2 separate regions of the Homo sapiens genome follow, and region 1 is linked to region 2. The links come from fine-mapping of genetic effects on gene expression. Tissue or cell type: whole blood. Region 2 holds a variant in brackets; the other region holds the start of a gene. All regions are shown on one strand. Distances are between the middles of the regions.

The links. PIP is the estimated chance that this variant, and not a neighbour inherited with it, causes the effect.
Region 1: CD44 starts here. The variant in region 2 is fine-mapped to the expression of CD44 in whole blood (GTEx, PIP above 0.99).

Annotation. Positions count from the first base shown.
Region 1 is chr11:35,134,486-35,142,485 of GRCh38, reverse strand. CD44 (CD44 molecule (IN blood group)) reads right to left here and starts at 3,315. Exons shown (of 18, transcript NM_000610.4): 1 at 3,116-3,315. The coding sequence starts at 3,182. It overlaps CD44-DT (CD44 divergent transcript), which reads left to right and starts at 4,454. Exons shown (of 3, transcript NR_120528.1): 1 at 4,454-4,788; 2 at 5,860-6,140. RefSeq lists enhancers at 1,918-2,418, 3,586-4,150 and a silencer at 3,606-3,675.
Region 2 is chr11:35,223,139-35,231,401 of GRCh38, reverse strand. CD44 (CD44 molecule (IN blood group)) reads right to left here. Exons shown (of 18, transcript NM_000610.4): 18 at 1-2,273. The coding sequence ends at 2,069. Among named protein-coding and RNA genes, the nearest start is that of CD44-AS1, 12 kb to the right of the region's middle. The variant T/C (reference allele first, on the strand shown) is at 3,279.

The DNA.
Region 1 (8,000 bases), 89 kb after region 2:
CAGACGCTCTCCTCTTTCTCAACACCAGGCATGCAATTCCCAAGCAAAGATCCCCTCACCCAGTCTATCATTGTTGGACATTTGGGTTGGTTCCAAGTCTTTGCTATTGTGAATAATGCCACAATAAACATACATGTGCATGTGTCTTTATAGCAGCATGATTTGTAGTCCTTTGGGTATATACCCAGTAATGGGATGGCTGGGTCAAATGGTATTTCTAGTTCTAGATCCCTGAGGAATCGCCACACTGACTTCCACAATGGTTGAACCCTAAAACTTAAAGTATAATAATAATTAAAAAAAAAGATCCCCTCACCCACAGAGACAAGGAGATGCATGTGCATGAAGGACTCATCCCCCCTGGCCTCCACCAAGGGCCACTTTCTTCCTCCTGCACAAGACCCCGAATTCAAGATATCTGTTCCCCAACTCAGAGTTTCTGGGTCCAATGTCACTTAACTACATTTGGCCATTTCTCCACTTTTTGCTTTCCCATACAAAGACTGGACTCCTCCTCAAAGCCTTGCTCCTTTCCAAAGTTTCCTCGTGGTTGTCCAGAGTCCACCACTCCCCAGAATGGGGCAACAAGAGCTCCTTTCCTTCCCCTTTCCTCCTTCTCCCCTTCGCCACCCACACCATGCCCAGCCCCAAGCCCTCTGACAAAGTCATGTCTCCTTTCCAAGTCCCAGTTCCTGCCAAACAACTTTACAAGCACATGAAAGCGAGGGCCGGGGCAGTTATTGCTACTGGCACTTCATTGTACTTCCTCTAAATGATGCTGCGCAAAGGGGCCGTGGAAACACGGGGCAGGAGGGAGACTGCGGGTCTCTGGGAGAACCTCAAGGGTTAGGACAGTGCCAAATATTTGGAAGTGGGGCCTTTTAGAAGGAACGGGGAGACAGGTTGGAAGGAGTCAGGAGTCAGAATGCCCAAAGACAAAGCAGAAGATGGCACTGGTAGGTAACATACAAATAAACTTCCCTAGAGACTATAGGGAAACCACCAGGGCCCTCTTCTTTCAGGCCAGGCCCAGGGCTCTCCCTGATCTCCAGCTTGACTCTTCTCTCCCATCCTGAATGTTTCCACTTTTCAAGGGCTTATTTGAGCTCCAGTCCCTTTTGGAACTTTCCCTAAGGCCTAGAGTCCACCAAAATCCTTCCCTCCCTGAAATCCTTCCAAGTTCGTCCATCTTATACAGTCTAACATATTCTAAGCCTAGGCTTTGGAGCTCAGTGGAGCTGGGTTTCCATCCAGCACTGCTCCTGGCTATGTGAATGCCAGCAAGTCACTTAACGTCTCTAAGCATCAGTTTTCCTCCTGTCAAACAGGCCTGATAACAGGAAGCTTCTTACTAGGCCATTGTGAGGGTAGAATGAGATAACACATGGAAAATATTTAACATAATGCCTGGCACAGTGAAAATATACAGTAAATGGTAGCTAGCACTGTATTCATTTTTTTTTTTTTAACAGAGTCACGCTTTGTCACCCAGGCTGGAGTGCAATGGCATAATCTTGGTTCACTGCAACCTTCACCTCCTAGGTTCAAGCAATTCTCCTGCCTCAGCGTCCCAAGCAGCTGGGACTACAGGTGTGCACCACCACACCCTGCTAATTTTTGTATTTTTTGTAAAGATGGGGTTTCACCATGTTGGCCAAGGCTGGTCTCAAACTCCTGACCTTGGGTAATTTGCTGCCTCAGCCTCCCAAAGTCCTAGGATTACAGGCATGGGCCACCATGACAGGCTGTGTTGTTGCTATCATTATTATTATTATTTCAGCTTCAGTAGTATAAATCCTAGATCCCCAAATCCCCACCTAGCAAAGACCTCTCACTCACACAGAAAGGGAGATGCATATGCACAGAGAACTCATCCTGCCTAGCCTCCACCTAGGGTCACTTTCTTCCTACTGCAGAAAGTAGGAAGATAGAGAAAGCAGAAAGTAATTCAAGATACTTTATACTGGGTACTCAATCTAAACTACCTGGGTGAGACTGTGTGTTTCAATTTCTCAGTACTCCCGTGGAACTGGGTTAATAAATATTTGCTGAGTAGAATTTACTGCATGCAGGCTGAGCTGTCTTAATGACCCAGCTGGCACTTCTTAAAAGAAAGATTAATTTTGGCCAGCGATAAGCAAATCGGCCATGTAATTATCTGTACATACATAGACAAAGAAAGAGAATGCTTGGAGTTGAGCCGTGCTAGAATATACCTTACACGCAGCCCCTCCCCTCCATAGCCACCACAAAGCACTGACCCTGTTTGGATGAGATATTGGAGCCCTAGCTCCAGGGTCCCTGATGTTGCCCTGGTATCAAGGCTCTTCTCTCTGCTCTGAGGCTGCCAGGCAGGGAATATAAGCCACCTTACTGTTGAGATTTCCCCACACTGATTGGCAGAAGCAGGAGGTGGTGAGGACCAAGCAGCTGGTCCAGTGGTTGCCTCTCATATTCATGCTCCCTATCCCAGGCTGGAATCTCATGGAGACCCAAGACCTCACCGCAGAGCTGGTTCAAGCTTCCACAGCGCTAAGGTGGCAGTGACACTGCGGACTGTAAGCTTTGGAACAAGGCTCAGTGGGGAGCTGGGAGAACCCAGGACCCCTTTCTGGAAAACCCATTGCCAGCTAGTCTCACACTTGGAATTGTGATCCCTTCTGTGACCACCTTGATAACAGCCACTCGCCCTGTTCCAGCCCCAGTCTCTGCCCCGCCCAGCTCTGCCCTGCCTAGACACAGCCCGGTGGGGCTTGGCGAGCCCTTGGGCACAGGAGCCTGTTAGTCCAGACAACGACTGTGCGCATCCGGGAGAACGGTTACTTTCTGCCATGTGCTGCAGCTCTAGCGACCTCGCCCAAAACTGCGCGCCGGCAGCCTGCCCAACAAACTTTCTTCTCTTTCTCTTTTTCTTTCAACCAAATGGTGCTTCCACAGACACATTCTCCAACGGTTTAGCGCAAATCCCAGCCCTGCTTTCCGGAGCCCAATGCACTTCGCAGACAGCTCACTTGACTCCAGTCCCCCAGGGCCGACTCAGCCGGAGGGGCTGCCGCCGGGTCCGCGCTGAGCACCCCGCACCCATCTTGCTGCCCAGGCTGCGGCGGGCACTCACCGATCTGCGCCAGGCTCAGCGGCACGAGGCAGAGTCCCCAGGCTGCGTGCCACCAAAACTTGTCCATGGTGTCCGGAGCGAACGGAGGGCGCGGGCGAAAGGAGCTGGAGGATCCCTGGGCGCGGGGCAGGGGCCGGCGGAGGACGGGACGAGGATGGCGGACCGAACCTGGCAGAGGCTGGGGTCCGCTGGGCAATGAGGCTGCCTCGGAAGTTGGCTGCAGTTTTTATTCGAGGTTGAAAACAGTGACCTAAGACGGAGGGAGGGAGCGAGCGAAGGACACACCCAAGCAAGGGGGGCTGTGACTAAGCAGCCCGCAGAGGTTTTAAGAAGTAGCAGCCCTCCCGGGCGGGCCCCTCTGCCCCCGCCCCGTGCTCTGCTGAGGCTGTAAATAATCGGGGCTGCCAGGGACGTGGGTCGGGGAACCTGGAGTGTCGCGGGGTGCCTGTGCCTCCGAGCCCCACTGGCCCCTGCGCCCAGAGACGCACTGGCTTTCTTCTCCCGCTGGCCCCGCGGCGTCAGGACAGAGGATGACCGAACCGTAAAACCTTGCACCATTGGGTTCAGCCTTTGGCCTCTCCTTTCCCGCTAAATTTCTCTGAATCCGGCTGGAGCAAGATCTCTGGGTTTCACAGGATGTTGGATATCCTGGGAGAGGAGCTGGAGAGAGGGCGAGGTCTTGCCCTGGGTGGCGCAGTGCCTCCGTGCCCACAGTGGGGAGTGAGGGGTGGGGAGTTGGTGAATCTTCCAAGTGGAAAGAGGGAGAGCTCATTCTTTTTCCCCTCAATAACAAGTCCACATGGCTTGAATGAATTTTAGCTTCTTGGCAGAACAGCTCAGGGAAAGCTACTGATGGCCTGTCATAGGGCTGGCATTTGGCTCAGCTAACCCATGTGTTCAAGCCAGTGTGAATGGGCACCTCTCTCCACACACATGCTCATTCATCCTCCTAAATATCCTTCCATCCGCCCATCCATCTATCCACCCATCTTTCCTTATGTCCTTCTGGGGCTCTCACATCCATCCATCCTCCTGTCCATCCACTAACCACTTAGGTCCATCTATCATCCCACTCATTCATTCATCCAACCACACACCTTTTAATTTATTCAACCACCTATTCTTCTATTCATCTTCCCATACAACTTCTCATCCATCATTCCACACTTCCTTTTTCACATCTCTTCATAAAACCACAACCATCCACCATCCTCTTCTCCACCCATCCACCCACATATCTGTTTATTGATATATCCACTCATTTCCCATCTGTCCAAGATCAACATATCCACCTATCATTTTATCCATTCTCTCATCCACCCATACGTTCATCTATTATTTTTGCCCCCATTATCCTCCTTTCTGTGTAAACATTAATTCATTTTCTCCCATCTTTCCTACCCAGCAGATCTTAAAGAGAGGAAGAGTTTGTAATATTCTTCAGGGGAAGCCTTTTGAGATTGAAATATCATACTTTGAATGATAACTCTATATCTATCTATAATATACTATGGTTTAATGTTTGGAAATCAAACGCAGTATTTATTTGTCATGTGAACTACTAAAAGTAAATCTGCATGGACTTCTTGCCTGGTGAGTTACACAGAAAATGAAAGTGATTATCAGTGGCTGTGGCAAGATGAAAGGAACCATGCCAGGACTTCTGAGGGAAGGTAAGATTTTGTTATTTATTTCAAGAAATTGAAAAGTTGAGAGAAATGCACCCAGCCATCCCCCTATGCATTCATTCATCAGACATGTAATGAGTGTTGTGGGGTATCGAGGTAAATAAGACCTGGCGCTATCTTCAGAGCCCTCACCCTCTGGTACGGAATAAAACTCACAAGCAGGCCATTACCATGCAAGGTGAAATATGCTGCAAAATGTGTGTGTTTGGGGTGCTACCATTCCTAGAGAAGGGAGTCACACTCTCTCCTGGAGAACACCAGGCAGTCTTCACAGGGGAAGTGATATTTGAGGCAGGCCTCAAAGGAAAAGGAGGAGGAATTCTTCAGATGAAACTACAGGGACAAGTAAGTCATCCACAGGCAGTACAGTGTAGTGACGAACAGCATGGATTCAGGAGCTAGAACACCTAGATCCAAACCCTATTATGGCTGCTTCTTAGTTGTGTGACCTTGCCTAAGGCAATTAGCTCAATTTGCTCAAGTATAAAATGGGCTTAATAATAGTATCTATTATTACTATTACAATTCTATTACTTCATAGAATTGGTGAGGATTAAATGACTCAAAAGCCCTGCATGTATTAAGCCGTAGATTTATGTCTACATATGCATGCAGTAAGCACTTTAAATAAGTGTTTGCTATCATTACTAAAAGCAAAATTGTGTTTGAGCATAGAAAAGTGAAAGAACATGGCTTGTCCAGAGAATAGAGAGCAATGTGAGCTGATCTGAACATAGATCAGATGAAGGGGCTGGGGGAAGATAGCAGACATGAGGTTACAGGTATGGGGACTACAAGGTGTAAGCTATGCCAGGGAGTTTGAACTTGACCCTGTAGGAAATAAGGAGGCAACGTACTTAGTTAAAATTATTATCATTGTTATGTTAAAATATGCATAACATAAAATTTACCATTTCACCCATTTAAAAGTGTTTATAGCAGTGACGTGTAGTACTTTAACAATATTGTGCAACCACTACCACTGTCTAGTCCGGTATAAATTTTTCAGTTGTGGAGATTCTGTTTGACTAAAGACTACTCCTCTTGCATTTTCAGGAAGAGTGTTTGGGACTGAAAAATCCTTGTCTGGATCTAGTCCTCAGCCACTCAGAAGCTGGCATGCCATGACTCAAAGAGCCGCCCGTCTGGAATGAAGACAGTGACCCGTAACTCCCACCTGAAGAGCAGGTGCTTGGAAAATGCTGCCAGTCCGCAGGAAAAAGTTGTTACTGCTGCTGTCTGTGACCAAGAGGACACTTTATTTCTTGAAACAACTGGGGGCAAACTGGCTCCCAGATAAGGCTTCAGTCCCTACTCATGTGAGGAAACCAGCCCTGGTAGGTTCCATGCACAAGAATACAGGACAAGGAGCAGCTTTTTTCACCTCATGCAACCTCCAGGGATTTCAGCTTCCTTTTCTTGGAGCAAGAAAGTGAAGTGACGTGGGGAGTCACTAGGAACAATGTCTGTCTTACTGTGTTTCATGGAACCTGGAGGTTCCTTAGAGACCCCTCAGAAGCAGACCTAGTGGTCAGAGTAAAAGCTGAGGAGTAAGCTGTGCCTCTCCCTCCCCAGGCCCCATCCCAACCACAGAAGTTCCACTTGCATCAGTTTTATATACCAGACTATTGCATGAAATTACATTTTGACAGATGATTATTCTTAAAAAATATATAAAAACCAACAAACTAGGCCATATCAAGTCCTGGTCCCTTCTCCATTAGTGCAGTAAACAATTCCACCAAGGAAAATATAGGTGTGAAAGTGCTTTGCAAACTGTAGAAGGGCATGCAAATTCTAGGGGCTGTAATTAGGATTATTCTCCCCAGAAGCGGGGATTATTTTGTTTGCTTGCTTCCCGATAGTTTGGTGAGGGACTGAGGTCATTTGCCCCCATACCACAAATGACTCATTTCAAATAACAGACCTGGTGACTTACTGAGTCAAGGTCCACCTTTGGGAATTCCTGGATCACCTCTTTGAGCTCCCCTCTCATCCACTTTCCATTCTAAAGACACCCTGCCCACACCACTGGTCACACAAACCCTTCCCAAACTCTTAGATGCTTGATATCTGTTGTGTGTTGCACCATCTTTCTTTCTAAGCCAAACCATGGGATGTGGGAAACTGGAAAGGAAACTTGAATTGATTTGAGTTGACACGAGATTACACTATTTGGGAAGAATCCAGAATTCAATCAGCAGCCTTGGACCGAGAAAGTCCAGGTCTGAGCATTGGCTTTCCCCCTTATCAGAGGATGACTTAACCTCTGGGAGTTTCGGTAATCCCAGCCACAAAACAAGGGTAATCAGACCTTTCCCATAGTTTATTATGAGTAGTCAGTGAAAGAAGACATCAAGACCATTTCCTGGTGTGCCTGCCTCATGGTGGGACTCAATGACCTCTAAGCTACCTGAGAACAGGGACATGTCCTTCTGGGGTGCCAGCACATACTCAGCTCTCAGTCCCTAACATATACACTGTGCTCCATAAATAAGCATTACATAAATGTATGAGGGACTGTTATTTTTTTTCCCTCCCATCAAAGCGCATAGGGGTGTTTCAGGAATCACATGAACTGGTGGGAGGAAACACATAGACAACTTGACAGTTTCTAAATAAATGCAAGCAGTGACATCCTATTTGGGGTGACTGGTTCAGGGAGACTTGAGTGCAAACAGAGCATTACTCACTCTGGCAGACTAGGGTTCTTTGCTGAAATATTGGGGACTGATGGCTTCTGACTGGTAGTAATAAATCCTGTTCCTCTCGAGCAAAGAAAAGCCAAATCTAAACCAAATGTGAGCAGGAGTGTGAAATGGAAAGCTGGGAGATCTTGGGCTGAATCATGGAATTCAAGGATTACAAATGCAGCAGGTCACAGACTCTTTTAAAGGGACAATATTTAATTATTTCACGGGACAGCTTCCCAGAAAAGGAATGATCTGGCACAGTAAAGAAAAAATGACATTCCAGTTAAACCTTAACTCTTAAAAAAATTCATCCTTAGTTCATATTCACAGTGTGAATTCTACACATATAAATGAGCAGTGGTGAAAAAAGCTCTTGCGAAATAATTATTAGTAAAGTCTAAATAAACCAGTAGCTGGGAAGCAATCTTCATGAAAAATAAATAACCTCTAAGGATTAGTCTCAAGCTAACCAAATGTGATTATAGAGCTGAGCCTTTAGGATTA
Region 2 (8,263 bases):
TCACTACCCCTTTCTCCCTGGGGCGACAGGTAGAGGCTGTTGTAACCATTTTGAACCTTGTCCTGGAGTGGCTTGTTGCTTTTCAGTTAAAGAGCTTGAGTGAGCCTGTCTGGGCCTCTGGCAGACCCAGGAAATCTCTGGGAAAACAAGAGGCACTTGAACACTAGTGGCAGTAACAACACATAGTGGCCTAATGTCCAGTTTCTTTCAAGTTGAAAAGAAAATAAAAAGAAATCCAGACCACTGAAAATGGATCTGGCCAATGATGTTCACAGAAGAGAAAGGAAGTTTTTCAAGATTGTGGGGTGAAGTGGAGGGAGAGAGGGAGGGGAGAGGGTAGACAGGGAGGAGCAGAGGCTGGGAATAGTGCAGAAAGTTGACATCTCTCCTTTAAAGATATTCTACAGATCAACTCTGTCTAAGCCCAGCCCTGATTTAGTCAGGAGCTTTTCTTCTTCTTTCTGCTTTGTGGTCTGAGAAGCATTGCCTGTTAAGCACATAAGTTTAGGTAACAAATGACTTTTAGTAGGAGCCTCAGAAAGGAGATACCATTTAACAGGAGCCGTTGCTTTATAGATGCAATGGCTTCTATGACAAGCAGCCTTTGGAAGTTCTAGGACCAATCGGACACCCTGACTGATGAATAAATGCCACAAAGGACTTGCCAAGTGGGAGAAAATATGAGGTTAGAGGATAAAGCCAGTACTCTCTTGTTTGGTCATAAACTTGCCTATCTGGTGATAAGATTCCAATGATGGGAATCCCTTTAACCTTTTGAGGGACTCCCCAGGCACTTAACTCATCCTAAATAGCAACTGCATCAAGAACAGACACTGGTGTGTTTAAGTTTACAAATACAGCCATAAAAATGTCAAACAGGATCTACATGGCATCATCCTTCCCCTTTGCCAATCTCTTTCATTTCCATTGGCTTCTTCTCTTATTGTAAGACATCAAAAGGCACTTCCATATTGTTTTTGGAAATCACTAATAGGGCCAGCCTCTATGAAATAGGGCCCCAGGGATAACAGGTCATGCAAACTTAATGTGACTTTGCAAAGCCTTTCACAGGAGAGAACAGGTGGCCATTAAACCATAAAAGAGGCTGAAGCTCCTCAGCTTCCAACTCTGATTCCAGGACAGGATGGAAAACCTTTGGACAGTGTCAAAAAAAAAAAACAAAAAACAAAAAACAAAAACAGTGCTGCCCTCCTTGGTCTTCCATGAGATTTGGCTGAGTGGGTCTGAGTGGGAACTCAGGGTCTCTGAGATGAAGACTTAGAAGAGTCTCCTTACCATTCTCAGCTCTTCCTGATACATTGTAGGGACCCAGACAGTGCTGGTTTAGAAACTGAAGAATCACAGCACAAAAGGTGAAGATCGAAGAAGTACAGATATTTATTATGAATCAGTTTAAACCCTTTTGTGCCTCTGACAAAGTAACTTTAAAAAATTATACTGATCAAAGGACTGATCCAGGGTTTAATATTTCAAAAACACAGATAAATAGTTTACTACAGATAAATAGCTTCACCCTTTGGGTGTCTCCCAGAAGCATCTGAAAAATTTCTAGAGGGGGTCTGTTGAAGATGTGTAACTAGTACACCCCAACCCCCAACCTCAGTGGAAAGCAATGCCCAGGGATTAGGCTATGGAAGGGCAAAATGGACCCATTCAAATTTCCTCCCAGGGACCAGGCCCTATTAACCCTGGGAAATGTCCTTAGCTGGTGGGGGAAAGGTTGGCGATCAGGAATACATATGTGTAGTTTTTGTTAGAAGCCATCCATAGCACACCCGAGGGATGAAAGGCCTCCAAGTGGGAACTGGAACGATCAAATTCTTGCTGATTATTAATTGGGCCCTAATTTCAGAAAGCAATGCTGTTTTTACAAATTGGACCTGACTTTAAAGAACAAAACACAAAAAACAAAAAGAGTAGAAAATTTTATGCTAAAAAAGATTCGCAATGAAACAATCAGTAGCACATTGCATCTGTTAAGTGTCCCAGCTCCCTGTAATGGTTATGTTTCCAACGGTTGTTTCTTTCCAAGATAATGGTGTAGGTGTTACACCCCAATCTTCATGTCCACATTCTGCAGGTTCCTTGTCTCATCAGCTGTCATAAACTGGTCTGGAGTTTCTGACGACTCCTTGTTCACCAAATGCACCATTTCCTGAGACTTGCTGGCCTCTCCGTTGAGTCCACTTGGCTTTCTGTCCTCCACAGCTCCATTGCCACTGTTGATCACTAGCTTTTTCTTCTGCCCACACCTAATAATTTAAAAAATGTACCATATCAGAAAGATTGCAGTGACTCAGGCATCAGATCATCATCCTTACTGAGCACCATCATTGATGATCACTATGGTTTATGATGGCTTTAGTGTGTGCCAAGCACTGTGCTAGGGGTTTTCTCTACTTTAACAACTAACAACCAGCACTTAACAACCAGACTCATAACAACCAGCACTCCTCAAAGTGAGGTCCCTGGACCAGCAGCAAAAGCATCATCTTGGAACCTGTTAGAAATACAAATTCTCAGCCCCACCCCAAACCTGCTGAATCAGAAAACTCTAGAGTTGGAGCCCAGGATCTGTGGCTTCTCTGCACAGTCAAATTTGCAACCCCTCAGGGGCTTCTCTGCACAGTCAAGTTTGCAAACCAGCAACTAAGACTCCAGGAAGCCGGTGTTATTATTATATTCTCTATATTCCAAGTGAAGAAACCTTGGGGATCAGAAAATTCAGTAACTTCCCCCAAGTAACTCAGCAAGTAAGAAAGAGGATTCAAACCCTGGTCTGTCTGACTCTCAAGTTCTGATTCTCTTTCTATCTTACTTCACAATGGAAATGTTTGCCTCTTTTAAGCATTTTAGCAGTTTCTGCAGATTTAGATAAACCATCAACATGATGATTGTAAATCATTCTGATTTGTATATTCCAGAAAGTCCCATAACTTCCTCTCCCAGTCAACACTTTGTCGGCCTTGTCAGCATTATTACTGAATGTATCGAGAAGAATAAAACAACATTTTTCTAGAGGTATAAGGCCATAGTGATGTTTTCCTAACATTGGCTAACTCATACAACCCTGATATAGGAAGTTTAATAACATAAGACAAATTATTCTCGTTAATTTAAGGTTTCTCAAACATTACTTAAGACCCAAACGCAAAAGAAAGTTGCTATGGAAGAGTACGACCTTGATCTTTTCCCTGGTTACTGTCCATTGCTTCACCCCACCCAGCCTAATGCAATGCTTCCTCTTTCCTGTAACA[T/C]ATCACTACTACACATATACGAGTCAGACTATGCTTAGAGGAAGGAAAGTTGCATAGCTTCACAACTACAAGCAAGATGGGGATTCAGGGAAGCAGATTACCTCCTGAATACCAGACATTTTACATGTAATTTTCTGTAATTCTTACAACACTCTTTCAAAGCAGCTATTGTTCCCATAATACAGCAATGGAAACTGAGGCCAAAAGAGGTTTAATAACTTGCTCGAGGTCACACAGAAAGTAAGAATGACAGAGCCAATATTCAAATCCAGGCCTTTATGACCAAAGCCTGGGCTCTGCCTGGCTCTGTCAATGCTGCCAGCCCTCTGGAGATTTGGAAACAGTATGAAGTCAGAATTGTTCACTTTGCCTCTGGATATTTGGAGTAATAGTGACAAAGCCTCTATTATTCATGATCATGGACCATTCCCTGTAGGACTGCCAAGGCCATAAACTTTAAGCTCTTGTTTGGGGAAATAAAAATTATACCTCCTCAACAGGAGGTAGATCCTGTCTCCTCTAGCATAAGGCTTGATGAGGGGTTGGGGGAAGGATGCTTGAACTGTGAAACAGATTCATGGGGACCAGGAATACAGATGGAGTCCAGCAGGATGCATGGTCAAGAAAAGGGCCTTGGAGGCCAGGTGCAGTGGTTCACTCCTGTAATCCCAGCACTTTGGGAGGCCAAGGCGGGTGGATCACTTGAGCCCAGGAGATTGTGACCAGCCTGGGCAACATGGTAAAACCCAGTCTGTATTCAAAATACAAAGATAAGCCGGCTGTGGTGGCATGTGCCTGTAGTCTTAGTTACTTTGGGGGCTGAGGTGGGAGAATTACTTGAGCCCAGGAAGTCGAGGCTGCAGTGAGCTGTGTTTGTGCCACTGCATTCCAGCCTGGGTGACAGAGTGAGACCCTGTTTCAAAAAAGAAAAAGAGACCAGGCACAATGGCTCATGCCTGTAATCCCAACACTTGGGAGGCTGAGGCAGAAGGATCACTTGAGGTCAGGAGTTCGAGACCAGCTGGCCAACATGGTGAAACCCCATCTCTACCAAAAATACAAAAATTAGCCGGTCATGGGGGCATGGTGGTGCGTGGCTGAATCCCAACTACTCAGGAGACTGAAGCAGGAGAATTGCTTGAACCTGGGAGGTGGAGGTTGCAGTAAGCTGAGATTGCATCACCGCACTCCAGCCTGGGTGACACAGTAAGACTCCGTCTCAAAAAAAAAAAAAAAAAAAAAAGGAAAAAAGAAAGAAGAAAAGGGGCTCGGAAGGCCTGGTTTTGAGAACTTACTGCTATGTGACCTGGGGCAACTCACTTAACCTCTCTGAGCCTCAGTTTTGCATCAATAATACCAGGTTACTAAGAGTAGCAATATCATAGGATTGTGAAAAGCCCTTGAAACAGAGACTGTCACTAAATAAATGAGTCTATTGTTATTATTCTTGCTCTTATGAGGGGTAAGGAAATAATTGTTATTCTTGCTCTTATGCGGGGTAAGGAAACTAAGGTTTGGGTTAACACTTAGAACAGTATCTGGAGCACAGTAAGCTTTCAAGTGCTATCTATAATTGTTAATATAACAAAAGCCATATGAAATGAATTTTGCTTGTTTCTCCTGGCTGCCTCCACCTACCTCGTTATTATTTACTATGAAGAGGATTTAAAAGGCTCAAGGTAGAATACTGCTTGTGTTACTTCCAATTCCCTGGCCCCTGTGTTCTTTGGAGGAAAGTTGTCTAGTTAAAGTAATTCCCATTTCCCTAACCAATGGGTGGTTGAGGGATGGAATGAAATATTGTGGGAAAGTGATTTATGAGCATAAAAAATATGTCTGTGCATGGGAGTGGGTGGGGATTAATGTTGTTAATCTAAACGAAGCTGATCTTGACAGTGGATAACATTTGACCTATAGGACACAGGAATATTGTGCTTGGTTTTTGGTTGGCCTGCATTTCCCTTTGGATTTATGTGTTTCTATCTGTCTGAGTAGTTTCAGGAGGGTAGGATGATTCTCATAAATAACTCATTCCAATATTCAGTGCTCTAGGCGTCTAATAAGTGCTTTTAAGAGACAAATTCTAATTTTTAAGTTATTCCTAGTTATAAGAATTTAAGAAGGAGCACTAGACCTTAAGGGGCTTCAGAGATCATCTAGCCCAGCTTCTTCATTATGTAAACTGGACACCAAGTCCAAGAAGTATTGTCCAAAGTTTCACAGCTTGTTATGGCACTGCACTGCAAGAATCACAGCTTGGATTTTCTGTTTTTGTTTGTTTGTTTGTTTGTTTGTTTTGTTTTGTTTTTTACAAAGTCTCACTTCATCAACCAGGCTGGGGTGCAATGGCACTATCTCGGCTCACTGCAACCTCTGCCTCCTGGGTTCAAGAAATTCTCCTGCCTCAGCCACCCAAGTAGCTGGGATTACAGGCACCCGCCACCACACCTGGCTAATTTTTGTGTTTTTAGTAGAGGTAGGGTTTCTCCATGTTGGCCACGCTGGTCTCAAACTCCTGACCTCAAATGATCTGCCTGCCTCAGCCTCCCAAAGTGCTGGGATTACAGGTGTGAGCCCCCGCGCCCAGCCACAGCTTGGATCTTCTGACTCTGAAGATCAGAGATCCTCATGGATCTGTGTCTTACCTTTATCTCCTCTTCCCTTAAATCTCAGGCATTAGCTGAGCACACAGCAATCACACAGTGTGGAAGGAGGCAGACTGAGACCTCACCAGGAAAGAGAGGGCAGGCTGGCTGGGGTTTAGAAGCCAGGTAACATACTTTTATGGCATGGCAGAATTTATCTTAAAAGATTTAGGTGGGTAACTTGGCAACTGATCTCATGACTCTTCTACCTGACAATCCTTAACGATATTTAGGGATTTATTTTGCACTGTTTTAGAGCTGTGCCATCCAATATGGTAGCCACCAGCCACATTTGGCTATTTGAATTTAAACTAATTACAATGAAATGAAATTAAAAATTCACTTCCTCAGTTGAACTAGCCATAGTTCAAGTGCTCAGTTGTGGCTAGTAGTTATATATTGGACAGTGGAGGTATAGAATATTTCCATCATCACAGAAAGTTCTATTGCATAGCACTGTTCTAGACAGCAGGACGAGGTTGGGTGAGCTCAGATTGCAGGAGCTAGACTGTAGCATAAGAGAAGGAAAATATTTCTAAATTATGGCGATGCGTAGAGAAGACCTACTGATTGGAGTGTGGGTGACTGCCTGCTGGGGTTTATAGAAAAGACGATTATTCCCATTAAAGTGAAGGCTGATGAACAGCTTTTATGTACAAGCAACATAGTAAAGTTCTCATGTTTTTTTCTCCTCTTTAGACAAATAAGATAGGTTTTTGTTTGTTTGTTTGTTTGCTTGTTTGTTTGAGACAGGGTCTCACTCTGTTGCCCAGGCTGTAGTGGCACTATCATGGCTCACTGCTGCCTCCACCTCCCGGGGCTCAAGCGATTCTTCTACCTCAACCTCCCGAGCAGCTGAGACCACAGGCATGCGCCACTATGCCCGGCTAATTTTTGTGTTTTTTGTAGAGATGGGGTTTCGCCATGTTGCCCAGGCTGGTCTTGAACTCCTAGGCTCAACTAATCCACTGCCTCGGCCTCCCAAAGTGAGCCACTGCACATGGAGTGAGCCACTGCACCTGGCCCAGATAGATTCTTTAAAGGAAAATCTTCTCTGGAGCCTCACGCAGTATCTATCAACCCAACTGACTCCTAAAATAATTATGTGCTCTCATGAAAAGGGAATAAAATATGATTTCTCTTGGAGAGCTGTAACTCAAGGAGTCAGGTGACATGAGGAACAGCAAAGAAAGCTGTTTTGGATGATGGCAGGGGTGGAAAAACCTAAAGAAGTAATAGAACCCCCAACCCAGCATCTTTAAGACAACGTGACTCACAGATCACTTCATCATGCAAGCCCATGACCCATCCTTGTATGTCAACTTCAGAGACTAATGATTTTCCACTTTTGTCTTTTAACCATAATTTATATAACAGTGTCTGGCACAGGGAATGTTCTCAATAAATATTAGCCAATTCAAATTCAAGAGGCCAATACTGCCACTAAACCTCAAGATTCTTTTAGAAAAGGGGTGGTACTCTTTTTGTTTTTTACCTTCTCTTTCTCCTTGCCAGGGCTGGTAGTCACAGGAGCCACTCAAAAGATGTTTGCTGAATAAATGAACACCTATTGGAGGCCCCATTTTCAACCAAACTTTCTCTGATGAAAATAGGATTCTGTATCTCTTTCTCTTAAATGTGACACTCAAAGCAGAAAAGCCTCAGCCTTTGAAGGGGATTAGAAATGGGTTGACAGCTTTAGAATCACAGAGCCCATTAAGGGGCCCGTACAGCTGTTCACCACCTTTTAGCTGCGTGGCAAATCTGTTTTCAATTATCAAATCAGGACATAGTAATTTATGGCATCCAAGCAGCTACTTTCCTGGTGAGATACTCGCTGTGCCGGACCCTGTGTGTCCCTGTTTGCCGGTTGCCAGGGTGACTGCTGGTCTTGGGAGGAGGGAGAGGGCAGCAATGAGGCCCCTTCTCTGCTGTCTGCTGCTGACAAGACACAGACGATGGGGGAGATACCCAGCCCCAATGTATGGACTCCAGCTGCTCTTAGGGACAGCTGAGATGCTTCTCCGAGGTCTCCCTAAATGTCGACAGCATCCATGCCAGCGTTTCTATGGTGACATGTGCAAAGCTTATGGACTGTGTATGTGAGCAAAAGTGGTGCATTCTAGGGCTTGGCAATAAAGGGCTGATTGCACACAATAGGAAATTCATATTTAATTGAGCAAAAGTAATCCAAGGGAAAATGAGGAAGCTGAAGGGAGGTATAAAGACTCTTTGTAAAGGCTCCCCCAAGTCACATTATTTAAATTCAACTAAAAAAAATCTTTCCATTCAATCATAGGCGGCCTTTTAGATTTTTTCTCTCAGTTTTGTTCCTTATAC